Homo sapiens: one gene and its partner. The protein of the gene in region 1 purifies or fractionates together with the protein of each later gene. This does not show direct contact. Each region holds a gene or a part of one and is shown in the gene's direction. Other genes may lie near its edges.

Evidence for each region.
Region 2: the proteins of GSC (region 1) and DSG4 purify together in Homo sapiens (affinity purification with mass spectrometry; 2 studies listed by BioGRID and IntAct, with this or other methods). This does not show direct contact.

Annotation. Positions count from the first base shown.
Region 1 is NC_000014.9:94,767,723-94,775,049, reverse strand, and holds GSC (homeobox protein goosecoid), read left to right. Parts: upstream 1-4,936; 5' UTR 4,937-5,034; coding exon 5,035-5,389; intron 5,390-5,832; coding exon 5,833-6,092; intron 6,093-6,400; coding exon 6,401-6,559; 3' UTR 6,560-6,827; downstream 6,828-7,327. UniProt on the Homo sapiens protein: Regulates chordin (CHRD). May play a role in spatial programing within discrete embryonic fields or lineage compartments during organogenesis.
Region 2 is NC_000018.10:31,386,765-31,393,798, forward strand, and holds part of DSG4 (desmoglein-4 isoform 2 preproprotein), read left to right. Parts: coding exon 1-55; intron 56-1,602; coding exon 1,603-1,758; intron 1,759-2,109; coding exon 2,110-2,254; intron 2,255-3,891; coding exon 3,892-4,058; intron 4,059-4,313; coding exon 4,314-4,448; intron 4,449-5,390; coding exon 5,391-5,576; intron 5,577-7,034.

The DNA of each region.
Region 1 (7,327 bases):
TTCTCCCCCTGAGGCTGCCACTTGAAAGTTGAAATCTAGCAAGATTGTAATGGTAGGTACCAGCTTTCTGAATTACAGGGTGACTGCCTGGGCTGATCCTAAAAAGCAAGTGTCTTTTTTATACCGCATAAAAGGCTGAAATGTTTACATATCAAAAGGCTATAGGCCAATTTCTGTCAAAATTACACATGAAGTTAAGCAGTACAAGCAATTTATTTAAACACTAGTCATTGTAGAAAAATTCAAAACCATATGCTCTTTAGCAGTTTTTCACAAATGCATTTGACCCATGACTTGGCTAGACATACAAGCTTCATAATTTACTCTAAATTTCAAATCCCCTTGACGTTTAAATAAAAGATCTTCATTAATGAGGTTTACATGAATGAAAACTTTAGAAGCAGATATCAGTTAGCGAAGGGCTTCGTTCTAATTTTCAAATGACTGACTTTGCTAATCATTTCAAGAGAAACTTCTTCTGAGAACAAATTATCGTCATTTGCATTCTGTGACTTGCAAAAGCAAAGGTGCAGTCATTTTGAAACAAATTTTGGTAAATAGCCCGGCTGAAATCGGATTTCTGCAACCCCGGAAAGTCCAAGCTATTTATTTATTTATTTATTTATTTATTTATTTTTCTAAGGCCTTGGGAACACGTCATTTTTCGATAGCCCCTTCTTCTCTTCTCTTCTCTTCTCGTCTCTTCTCTTCTGTTGAGCTTCCCTAACACCTTGATTATTTCGTCCTTAGGGGATCGGGTGCTTTTATTTGGAGCGTTGGAAAACTTCTAGCAAAAAATCAGCTAGAAAGCTCCCTTACGCCCTCCGCTCCGAAAGCAGGAGACCCAGCTCTAATGCGCGCTGCCCCTTAGCCAGGAGGCATTTGCGCCTCTGGCTCTACTCCACCCACCCAACCTCACACGGACAATCCCCTGGGGCTACCGGAGATGTCCTCCAGAAAGCAGCAGAGCCATGGAACGGGGTTTGAGCACTTAGCTTTGAGACTGGATTTTTTAAAAGTCCCAATACAAACAACACAACCATTCCGCTCAGTGAGGACGGCTGAGGTCTCGGCGCAGCACGCGGGCTGCAGGGGGCTCTGCGCATTGCTCCTAATTCCTCTGACCCCGCTAATGCGCCCTCCGATGAGGGCTCCGTACCTTGAAAAGGACACACCGGCTTTTTGCACATGACACGAAAAATCCGACTTAAACGCATCCGATTGTGAACTCTGCTCTGTGGCCGGGCAGGAGACGGAGAGAATTAAGAAAGTTCCTGAAACGAACCGTAAGAAGTTGGGGTCGAAGATGCATTATTTTTTTACAGTTATGCGGAATGGGGTGTAAGGATAGTGGGGCGACAGTTTTCTCCCTGACAAAAATACCTTGGGGCGGGAGAAGATACTCACACGCATACTCCAAAGTTGGACACTGTTTTAAATCAGAGAAGCAATTTAATCTACACTCTATGAATCAATTTAGTGATGACCGCAGTGCAAAAGCGCCGTGACAGATGCCGAACGGCAAATAGACCTTATGCATGTGGAATCCGCTGAGCTATTCTTTAATATCTTAAAAATGAGGACTATTACTGGGGCGAGTGACTCCTCAACAAACACATTTTCATAGACTTCTGCGTGGTGATTGCTTTGTGTGAAATCGTGTTTGGGTGATAATAGGGAAAATCAGCGGCATGTTTACTGCATTTCCGACCTAAGCGCTCGCCGGCTGCCTCTGGACGCTCGCGGTCCTCCCATGCTGAGCTGTGCGTGCGGGGCCGACAAACAATCGCTTAGCAACACGAGGTGGACAATTTGCGTGCGTCGCATTTGTTATTCCAATTGCGCCAGGCGATGCGGGGCCCTGATGGTTTGTTTAGCACGTTGAGGACACTTGTGAGTTTCCGCCCGCCGAGGCGCAGTGCGAGCACCGAGCGCCGACTGCCTTTCCCGGGGCCTGCCTCCGCGCGGCTGCAGATTGAAGGGGCAACCCGATGGGGGAGGTCCCGCCGCGCAGGGGTGAGCTCCCCTAGAGCTCCGGCAGAGTGTCTGGAGCTGTGTGGCCTTGGGGTTCCTGTGACCCCCTTCCCGGAAAGTCCCCTCTGCGGCAGCACTCGCTTTTCCTTATTTTAGACCCAGCTGATGTAGGAACCCTGTCCTTGTCTGGGGGCGGAGGTGGGGACAGCACACTCCTTTGTCTCAATGAAAAATAAACAAGAAAATGCCCCCAAGTTCATCCCCAACCTCCTTGGCGAACGGATGACAATTACCAAGTCTCATTAAATGTTAGGGTTGCAAAGGGACCCAATGAATGTTGGTGTTGGTTTGATCAACTAAAATCCTGAGGCCTCCAGAGAAGGGATGATTTGCAAGGTGGCAAGGTTGGGTCTGCAACTCTGACGCTCAGATTCTGTACAGGGCTCAGCTGGTACAGCGGAGGGCTGCAGGAAAGCACAGGCGCAGTATAGCAGTTTGCTAAACCTGGTTATTAAAAAGAACAATGTTCCAGGTGGAAGGGGAGACGGAGGGGTGTGTGGAGGTGGTTGTCTGATACTTTTAAAAACATGGAGACACTTTTTTTAGGTCTGCGGTTGAAATCTTGACACTCTCCTGATTTGGCATCTTTGCAAGAACAGGACGAGGAATCTGCCCCAAGCGTCAGGTGGCACTTGTGCCTCTGCCCGGCTCAGACAAAGGTCTTAAAAGATCCACTCACACGCGCACCGCAGCGCACACCCAGCCTCCAACACAAACGCAGGCAGTCACTGATAAGTTGCAGCCTCTAGTTGTCGTCCATCAACTGCCCTGTAGCTTTAAACCTGGGAAAGATTGGTGGGGGAGTATCTGCCCTGGAGCATGGTGACTTAAGTCTCTGAGAACGGAACAACAATAAAAAAGACTTCATCCTAGTCAGTGGGAGATGGAAGGTGCCTCACTTCTTACCCTAGACCTGACCTCTCTAAGGGGAGGGTCACACTCCCTCTTTGTTTTTATTGTTAAAAAAGAAAAAAAGGAAAACTCTATTCACTTCCCCAAATTGAGACCCATCTCCGTCATGTCCTAATCCCCATTTACAACCACCTCTAGTTTGCGCAGCACTGGAAGGAGCAACTCTCAGGCCACAAGCTGGTGGCCGTGAGGACACAGAGGTCCACGCTGGGAGGCCTAGGAGGAGAAACGTCGCCGCCTGGCTCCACTGGGCCGCTTCTGCGCGCCGCCACAGTAGTGCCCTCGGACAGGACTAAACCTCCGTGCAATGGCTCTTTGAAACCCGAACAGAAATTGACAAGTGGGCTTTCCCCTTTGCCCCTGAGCCGGGGAGTGGGCAGCCCACTTACTTAGCCTTACGGCGGCGACTTCAGACAACTTTGCGGGGTCCCTTGGTTAATTAGCCTGAGAGAAATCGCGAAAAATAGGTGTGAGTTAAAGGCGGACTTCCTTCAGGAAACCCGAGGTCTCCCGCAACCCCATCTCCCTCTCCGGCTCTCGGGGGTATCGCCTGGGTCGGGTACTGCCCCTTCCCCTGGAGTGGCCTGAGTTGCAAGCCGGGAGCTTGCACCCGGTCCACAGGATCTGGGGGACTGCTTTTGTTCCGCGCGTACCGTCGCCTACCTTCTCGAAGGGCGCTCGGCCGCCTGCTTGCCGTGAGTGGTGGGCTGGCTGCGCCTCCCGTGGCTCGGGCAGGCTGGCCGTGCCATGCCGAGAATCCCGCAAATCATCGCGGCCGCCTGCCGCTATCAGACCCGGCCATCGTCCAGGCCACTGCGGCCCAGGGAATCCACTCTGGGCCTGCCAGGCGGAAGGGCAGGCCTACCGGCAGCCAGCAGGTCGTAAGGAAAAATGCGACCCAATTATTGGGGAAGAAGATAGGGAAGTCCCAAAGACCCCATCTGGATTGAAAATCAAAAAAATAGTTTGGGAGAGAAGGCACCACATTTCCAAAACTAATTTTTTAAAAGCACAAAAACTACCGACACCCACGCTGGGAGCAGCTAGAAGCACCGCTTCAGACTGCAACTCTTGGTGGCGAATTTTAAAGAGCGGCTGAATTTGGTCTTCGCTGTGTAGGACCTAGGGACTGCCATGGTAGTTTTCAGACCCAGAGTGGCTGGAAAAAAAAATCTTTTTAAGAAGCACGATGCACCCCTCCTTTAGTCGTTTTTGCCTTTACAAAATTTGGATTTTACAAAACCAAAAGTTTTTTGGGGGGGTTAACAAGTTCCATTCGGGAGAGAAACTCAAGATTTAAAAAAGAGGTAAATCAGGCGGTGAGTACGTGGGGGCGCGGAGGAGTGGTGGAATTTTCAATCCTGCTTGAGAGGGGATGCAGCCCCTCACATTTTCTAAAACAAAACCAATTCCGAAAGGGGGAAAAAAGTAGCCCCAAAGTAAAATCGTCCACAATGAATTTGAGCTACAGGCAGAGGAAATCGCACCCAATAATAGGACCCAATCTGAGAAAAAAGGGTGGGGGTGGAGAGCTCGGGCGGAGGGAGTTGTTAACTGCGGCGGCACAAAGGAATTAATGAGATTAACCAAGGCAATTAGGCCGCCCGCCCAGCTCGGCCGGCCCGCGGCCCGGCTGCCGAATGGAAAAGATTAGGTTAATTTCATTAATTCGCAATCCACAATCTCTTTTCAGGCCTTGTAACCCCCTCCCCTTGGCACCTCTCCCCCTCCCCCCAACCCTCTTCCCCCACCCAAAGGAAAAGAAAGGGCCAAATCTGGTTCTGTTTGTCATCTGCATATTACCAGGAACTAAATCCAGGATGACGTCGACTCAGTATAAAACCAACAAGAGGTTCAGCTGGTCTGAGCTCCGTCCTACCCGCGGGTTGAGTTCAGCGAACGCTGCGGCTAGGGGAGGGCGGGAGGAGGGAGAGCGGACGCAGGGGGCGGGGAGGGGCGCAGGGCTGCGCGCTCGCCGGCGCTCTCTTTCGGTTTGGTCGGCGGCTGGAGGAGAGTGGACCCCCCCACTTTAAGGCTCTGTCCTCGGCGCGTTCCCGCCGCCCCCCGGTCCCGACGCGGGGCTCGGGGATGCCCGCCAGCATGTTCAGCATCGACAACATCCTAGCCGCCCGGCCGCGCTGCAAGGACTCGGTGTTGCCGGTGGCGCACAGCGCGGCGGCTCCCGTCGTCTTCCCGGCCCTGCACGGGGACTCGCTCTACGGCGCCAGCGGCGGCGCCTCCTCGGACTATGGCGCCTTCTACCCGCGCCCCGTGGCCCCCGGCGGCGCGGGCCTCCCGGCCGCGGTCAGCGGCTCCCGCCTCGGCTACAACAACTACTTCTACGGGCAGCTGCACGTGCAGGCGGCGCCCGTGGGCCCGGCCTGCTGCGGGGCCGTGCCGCCGCTGGGCGCCCAGCAGTGCTCCTGCGTCCCGACGCCCCCAGGTAGGGTCGCGCTCGCTCCGGCCTCTGCCGCCCACTGCGGTCCTTAGCCCATGGAGCCGGTTGGTTAATTCACCTTCCTCAAACTTTGCTCCTCTTGCAACTCCCCCCTCCGCTTTTGCCGATCGGGCGCAGGAGTTTGCAAACTTCTTGCTGCAAACTTTTGGCCAGAGTTCGCGAAAACTGGAATTCAGTGCCTGCCCGGGGAAACTGGGTTTTGTTTTGTTTTGTTTTGTTTTGAATTCTCTTACTGGCTTTGGCGGGTGTGCGGATGGATGCTCTAACACGCCTCCTCCTTTTCCCTGCACCCCTGATTCCCGTGCACCCCCAATTCTCAGCATCCCCTTGCAGACGACTTCTAAGTGGAAGAGGGTCGGGGGCTGGCGGGCGTGCATGCGTGCGGTGGCGAGGGCGGGCGGCTGACCGTGCGCCCCACTCTGTCGCAGGCTACGAGGGCCCCGGTTCGGTGCTGGTGTCCCCGGTACCGCACCAGATGCTGCCCTACATGAACGTGGGCACGCTGTCGCGCACCGAGCTGCAGCTTCTCAACCAGCTGCACTGTCGGCGGAAGCGGCGGCACCGCACCATCTTCACTGACGAGCAGCTCGAAGCTCTCGAGAACCTCTTCCAGGAGACCAAGTACCCGGACGTGGGCACGCGCGAGCAGCTGGCCCGGAAAGTGCACCTCCGCGAGGAGAAAGTGGAGGTAGGCGCCGGGGCCTGCCGTGGGCGCCTAGCGGTCCTTCCCCGCGAGGTGGGGCCCCAGTCGGGTTTGCCCAGCCCTGCTTGGCTCTCCCCGCACTTTAAAAACATCCCGATGGCGGCCCGCAGGCTGCTGGAGGGCGCTTTAGGCCCAGGAAGTTGAATGAAAACGCGGAAGCGGGAGCGAGCGGCTCCCCTCCTTTTGTTGGCCTGCGCGGGGTGTCCCGCCGCCACACCAAGCTCCCCGGGTGCCCCGGGACTGGGGGAAGCGCGCCTTTGATCTGAACTGTTTTGTCCTCCGTTGCGCAACAGGTCTGGTTTAAGAACCGCCGCGCCAAATGGAGGCGGCAGAAGCGGTCCTCATCAGAGGAGTCGGAGAACGCGGAGAAGTGGAACAAGACGTCGTCGTCGAAGGCGTCACCGGAGAAGAGGGAAGAGGAAGGTAAAAGCGATTTGGACTCGGACAGCTGACGGCCGCGGGACACTTGCCCGTATTACTTACCTAACTCGAAGGACTTGCACAGACAGACGATGCTACTTTCTTGCACACGCGCTGCCTTGCGGGAGGGGGTCGAGAAAGAGGAACGAGGAGCTGTAAATAGTGTACAGAGCCGGGAGGGTCGGCGTCTGGGGTCAGGGCGCGCACAGCCCAGCAGCCCGAGGCCGCCCGCGACTAGCCCCCACCGTAGTATTTATAGTTAAATTAAGGGTGACAGTACAATAAAGTGATGGCGATGTAGACGGGCCACATTCTGTATTTCATACCCCCCGCCCCACCCACCCACCACCATCAGTCTGGAGCCAAGAAAAGAAGTCTATGTAGTCCGTAACCTCCGGAGGAAAAAACTGAGCAGCTATGATCTACCTAAACAAACAAACAAACAAGAAATGAAGCTCTGGGTAACAGTCACAGCATGGGTGTCCTGGTTTAAAAGGAAACCTTATGTCTAGGAAGGTTTGGAGAGTAGCATTGCTGGGCCAGAGCCGGGAGGAGGTACCATTGCAGTTGAGAGGGGCAGCCTGGGTCCCTGACTCCCCTCTGCCGAGGGCAGAAGGAGCACTTCTTCCCTCACTGATGAGGTGGGAGCTAGGGGAGTCCGGGAGCTCCCACGGAGCCCACTGCTCCAAGCTGCTCAGCCCTGCTTCTGAGAAACCTAAGGCGGCGGGTCCACGGGGGAATTAGGCAGCGGGCATGCCACCTCCCCCAGCGCTTTCCTGGAACTTCCACAGATGCTCCAG
Region 2 (7,034 bases), on another chromosome or scaffold:
TGCCGCAGCCTGTCGAGAAGGAGAGGACAACTCGAAGAGGAACCCCATTGCCAAAGTAAGTGATGAAGCAATCTGATGACAAATGCTTTTGCAGAGCAGGGAAGCTTTCAAATATCTCCAAGATTTGCAGGCTTCACTGCTCCACAGTTATTTAAGAAGACAGAATGTGGTCATTTGCTCCAGTTGCTGAGCCACTGATTTGAATATCATGTGCAGGGAGGCTGACGTGGGGCAGGCAGTCAATGGCAAGTGATTCTAGAAGAAAGGGCTGGATCTCCAGCACAACTGGGCTTTGTTCATCCATTTGTGTACTGCTCATTATTGCCTGTCAATGTCATAGGAAACGTATTCACATAGTGACAGTCTGAAGCCTGGCCCTCCAGAAAGTCAAGCCAAGTTTACTGCACTAGATGAATTAACTCCAGGAAAGTAAGGATAGTATCAAAAGTTCCCACCAGATCTCTACATCCAGAAAATAAGAGAGTCTTATAAGACTTTCACAAATAATGCCTACTGAAAAGGAAGGAGAGTTAAAGAATGTGTAATAAATTGATCCAGGAAGGATGGGATCCACATTAATAGCTTCATTCACTCTTTCTGGACATCTTGATCCTGAACAGTAAAGTGATCTGCAGAATTCCCTCCTTCCAGCTTTATATTAAAAACATAGTAAGCATCAGCAGTGGTGTTACAGATACAACCTCAGCTCAAGAAAACAGATGTATTCTCTCTCAGATGTTTTCAAATTGGAGGGACGCTTTTAAATTATTATTTCCATTCAACTCAGTAATTGCTTTATGTTATTCCACTTATATTGCATATTCTTTTCTTTTTCTCTGCATTTTGGGAGGTTCTTGAGTTTTCTTCTATGTAAAAAGGGCCTTTGGATTAGAGTTAAGCTAACCAAAGTTCTATTTCCAGCAGTCTTTATTTGACTGTGAATGTGTGGGTAAAAAATCTTACTATTTTACTGAATGCTCTTATCGTTAGTATATAGGTGAGATTTCAAAATTGTTTCAGTTTAAATTTATCAGCAATAGGTAATAAAGCTACTAAAGCAAAATCTGTGTGGCAGAATATTTGCCATAAAATCTATTTGGCAGAAAAGTGATGCAGTATGTTTACATTTATAAAATTATTACAAATATCTCTAACCATTATAGTTTTCTGATATTCTCAACTTATCTACCATTTTGACTAAATCTCAGACTCCAGCTTAGGTAGGATACTTATTAATATGACACAAGTTATTTTTAAAAAATAGTAAATGTTGTAATTTCTTTTGTGAAGCTATTTCTGCGTATGCTAAAAAATCAGAGAATTGAACAATGTGTTATTAACAACAAACCTAGCACCAAGTGTGTATGTTATACACATTACCTCATGTAATTCCCACAACAAATCTGTGTGATATTATCCCCACTGTAAGCTGATCTGGGCAAAGTTAAGTAAATTTTCCAGGGTCACACAGGACTAAGTCATGGTGTCAGGTTTCAATCCAAAGCCCATTTGGTAAAGAAACCCACTCCCTTCTTATTCCACTACACTCTTAAGCATTATCTGCTCTAAACTGGATCACAATCCTAGCTATTTTTCTTATAGATTCGATCAGACTGCGAATCGAACCAGAAGATAACATACCGGATTTCTGGAGTAGGGATTGATCGACCACCATATGGGGTATTCACCATTAATCCTCGCACTGGGGAAATTAACATCACTTCAGTGGTAGACAGAGAAATAACTCCACTTTTCTTGGTAAGTCATAGCCATATGTTTTGATTTGTTCATATTAGTTTTCTTCCCTTTTTCAAAAAATATTATCTTAAGATAATGGATTACTTTTGATAAAACATGGCAGACTGAACCCAAATAGAAGACTTGAAGGAATGGAAAGAGTGTGAAAATAAAAGTTTATAGTTCAGGATTCTCTGGTATGTTGCATGTACATGTAGTCAAGTGTCCTGATCATATTTAAATTATTTGACTGTACTACAGTCTGAATTCACTGGAAAAAATTGTTTCTTTGCCTATTTTCTGATATATTTTCAAGCATGTTACTAAAATTCCTTTGGTGGAAAAAGATGGCTTTTTTCCAATTTTCCACAGATCTATTGCCGGGCTCTGAATTCACGGGGTGAAGATTTAGAAAGGCCTCTTGAGCTTAGAGTCAAAGTTATGGACATAAATGATAACGCTCCAGTCTTTTCGCAAAGTGTATACACAGCCAGCATTGAAGAAAATAGTGATGCCAGTAAGTAGAATGACATTCCTTCTCTACGTCACAGCATATCTACTTCTCTTGGTCAAAAGCTTTAGAGGACTGACATACAGGAAATGTAAAGGACAGAAAAAGCCACACTTGTATTTTGAATAAACCCCACATATTTTAATTTATAACTGAGCTAGAAAAAGAAATCATGTCTAAAATGATAAAATAAAATATCTTCTTACTTGCGGAAGGTCCCTACAGGGATTTAGCAGGTGCTTAGCACCTTGCTTAAAGATTGCTACTGGGCTCATGAAGAACTAAATCCAAGCGAGCAAACTGAGGAATAAACCAGGAATGTTTAAGAAGGCTCTGTTCTGGTCTCTTACTCAAAATGTTTGGCTGACCCACACCAGGTAGAGCGTGATGGTGGAAGCACACGCAATTGTACCCATCAGATCAATCACTAAGGGTAATCATTGATCTTCACAGACTACATAGCAAACTACATTCTATTCTCTCATTTTCTTTCATTTCTTTCCATTCCACTTAATTCCATTTCCAGTTCTAATACCCTCTGTCTTTCCTTTATATTAATTCTCCTGAACTTCTTTCCTTCCTACTCTTATGCTTTTCTTATATGGCTACTTTCCTATCTCTCCTCTCCCTTTGCCTTCTGACCTTGATTTTACATACAGCACATGAATATCAGTTTGTTCCCCAAACCCCTGTTGTCCCTTTCCCTTTCAAATCTATGTCTGCCCATATACCTCTAAACAAATTTGGGGGGAAATAATAGGAAAAATAAATTTCAGGAAAAAAGGCAGATAAACACAAAATTTTTTTTTGAACTAGGATAGTCCTCCCATAGAGAGGCAAAGAGATTTTGCCTAGGAGAGCCAACACAAAGAGAGACTCCGAAGTCCATCTTTGCTTCCTCATCAACACACCTCAAAACAACACTGGTGAAGGAAGAGAAGGTGAAACCCACAACCAAGTCTCCCTGCCTAGGAAGCAAAAGAACATCAGGGACCTGACAATTCTGAAAAGTCTGTCCTGTAGATTGACATCCTTGGGGATTTGCCTAAGATACCTGTTCTTTCTACCTATGAGTAATTAGGAACTTCTTATATTGCTATGGACAAGTCTTCTTTTCAATAATTATAAATTTGTGACTGTTTGGTAAAATGCTATCTTCCAATGCAACCAAGAGTAATTATCTGCTTTCTGGAAAAGTGGCAATTAAGAATATAGGTGTTCAATACATAATTATAATGTTGCATTTAATTAAACTATAATTTTCCTTAATTAAGCATTTTTAAATGATTTCACAAGACCATGGCAAAAAATAAAACAGATAAAAATCTGTTTATTCAGCTATATGATAAAGAATCTATTGAACTTCTTTTTCGTACTTTAAAGAGAACTATGTTTAGCCACTAATTTAGTATTTAATCATTTAAGGAGTGCAAGTACTTTTAAAACAGTAAAGGGTTTTATAAAGCAAACCACATTTTTTTTAATCACTGGTAGAGCTGAAAGTTATGGTACTATATTCCCATGGAAAACTCAAACAGAGAGAATTCAGGAGAAGGCCAACCACTCTGTCTTCTTATGCCTAATGATTTGCTGAATTTATTCTAAGAGTCCCAACCATTCTCCACCTCCATTTCTATTTCTAGATACATTGGTAGTAAAGTTATGTGCCACAGATGCAGATGAAGAAAATCATCTGAATTCTAAAATTGCCTACAAGATCGTCTCTCAGGAGCCATCAGGTGCACCCATGTTCATTCTGAATAGGTACACTGGAGAAGTCTGCACCATGTCCAGTTTCTTGGACAGAGAGGTAAAGCCTTCTGTGAATGAACAAGAACTAAAAAATTCAATTTTGAAAAGACAAAGATAAAATGATCCATGTGTACCCTTACTCCAATATAAAGGAGGGAAGAAAAATAATCCATTTTTAATAAAAATTAAAAGCTCAATTATATAAATTTCATTGGATATGTAAATAAAAGAGTAGAGAAATAATGGCATTGAATGCATTGGATTCTATTCAAGACAAAACCTAAGTCTTACGTTCTTTTTCATCTTGATTAAGCAACACAGTATGTACAACCTGGTTGTGAGAGGCTCAGATCGGGATGGAGCTGCAGATGGACTGTCTTCTGAGTGTGACTGTAGAATCAAGGTTTTAGACGTCAACGATAATTTCCCCACCTTAGAGAAAACTTCAGTAAGTTTGTATTCTTATCTTCCTTTTTCCATAAGTGTCAATAATCAATTTGCATAAGTGTCAATAATCAATCATGCTGGCTCATGAGCCTGGTTCTGTCCTATGTGTGGACATACTCAACTTTGTTATAGAAACTTTGGAATTTCTTATGTATACTAATATACCTTCAAATTGTATGTTTGTCTTTGACTCACTACTCCAAACAAGCCTTCTCTGTGAAAGCAACGAACTATCTATTCTGTATACTCTATTCACAGAAACACAGAAATCTGTTGATCTAACTCTGGGAATAACATAGCAACATTAATGTTTTTGTATATGCCTCATGATTTGCTGAATGAATTCTACTAGAGTCCCAGACAGTCTCAACTTCCATTTTCATCTCTAAGCATAAAGAAGCATAAAATCCACACTAGCAGGGCCAAATCTGGCTTGCTGTCTGTTTCGGTTTAAAAAAAAAAACAAAAAAACAAAACAAAAAACGTGTTATTGGAGAGCATAGCTGTCCTCATGCCTTTACATATTGTCTATGGGGGCTTTGTGCTGCAACAGCAGACGTGAGGGGTTGCAACACCAATTCTCTGGCCCACAATATCTAATATATTTACTATTCAGCCCTTTACAGAAAAAAATCTGGTCCTCTATCTAAAAGAAAAGAATAAATAAAGAAAATTAACAATAAGCAAAAATAAATAAATAAATAAAAGAGAAAGGAACAAAGTGCTAATTTGACCTTGATTTTACATACAGCACATGAATGTCAGTTTTATTATCTTATAATCATTTTATTCTTATTCTCCTGATTGGACTATGGGCATTTAATAATGGTGCAAAAATCATCGACATAGTTTGTTGTTAGTATTTTAAATAATAATAATGTGTTTTAAGTACGTTTCTTCTTTTGAAAATTCATTGACTACAAAATTGATCCTTGCATTTTAGTACTCAGCCAGTATTGAAGAGAATTGTTTAAGTTCGGAACTGATACGATTACAAGCAATTGATCTTGATGAAGAAGGCACTGATAACTGGTTGGCTCAATATTTAATTCTCTCTGGAAATGATGGGAATTGGTTCGATATTCAAACAGATCCACAAACCAATGAAGGCATTTTGAAAGTTGTCAAGGTACAGTATAAGGATCTGCAATATTTTCTTCCAAAATATTTTATTCCAAAGAAGTTTTAAATGACCTTAGAGACAGAATCTGCCTTTAAAAAAAAGTACTTCATAACTTTGAATATTGTTTATATCAAGGGTCCTAAGTAACTGCTATGTCAGTCTGAGTCTCCTAGCTAGCAACACAAAACTTATTACCAAGAAAAATATGAAGACTGTTTTGTTCTGACAGTGTCCAATATCTAGTTGTGAAGATAAGGTAAGCAACCCCAAATTAGAAGATATATGGGAGTTCACAGTGCAATAAATAATACAGATGTCATGATATAAAACATAATTAATTGCCAAGGGAGTGGAATATGAAATAATGAAAGAGATAAGAAATGGTGAGATCCTTCTGAGCTAGATTTGTCTGAAAAGATTTCATGCAGGAAATAAGGCTTAAGCAAGATGTTATAGCTAAGATTGCTAATGTGGGTAATAAAATAAACAAACACAGAGTGAGAAAACATGAAGCAAGTTCAGGGCATGGTGAGCAACCCCGTGGGGCTGTAGTGGGGCATCAAGTAGGGAAGTAATCAGAAGTCAGATCAGAGAAGTGAAGCTGAAATCGATCTGCTGAGAACCTTGCATACTGAAATACCGGCTTTGATTTTTTTCTATAGATTAATTTTTCTTTAATTACTTGCTTTTAATTCACAGACAATGATAAAACTGAAAAATTTATAATTAGAAACGAATAAAACCACAAACCAATAAGATTCAGATTAACATTACTGTAATGAGGGAAATTGTTATTTTTTAACAAAGGAAATTGCTGCTAACAACATAAACAACACTTATAGCCAGGAAAATATATATTAAGACATATATGTACACACATATTTTTAGCTTACTACACAGTGTGATTGTGGAATTTACAGTGTGATTATTCAGTTCTGTTACTATTTTTCTCTATTCAAGCACATAAGGCTCTTTTTGTGTTACCATAAAGTAATAGCTGAGACTGGGTAATTTATAAAGAAAAGAGGTTCAGTTGAATCACCATTTTGCAGGCCATACAGGAAGCAAAGTGCCAACATGTCCTTCCAGTGAGGGCCTCAGGAATCTTACAATCATTGTGGAAGGCAAAGGGGGAGCCAGTGCATCACATGACAAGGGCAGTAGCAGAAGAGAGAAGGGGGAGGTCCTAGACTCCTGTAAACAACCAGATCTCGCAAAAACTCATTTATCACCAAGGCTATGGTGGTAAACCATTCGTGAGGGATCTGCCCGATCACCCCTCACCAGGCCCCACCTCCAACTTTGGGAATCACATTTAAAGATGAGATTTGTGGGTGACAGACATCCAAACCATATCATCAAGTTACTGTGAAGTTTTTTCAGATAGCATATTAGGAAGCCATTTAGCCTTCTGGAAGCAAACATATCGTTTATTCATTGGGTCTTTCGCTTTTCTTTCTCAAG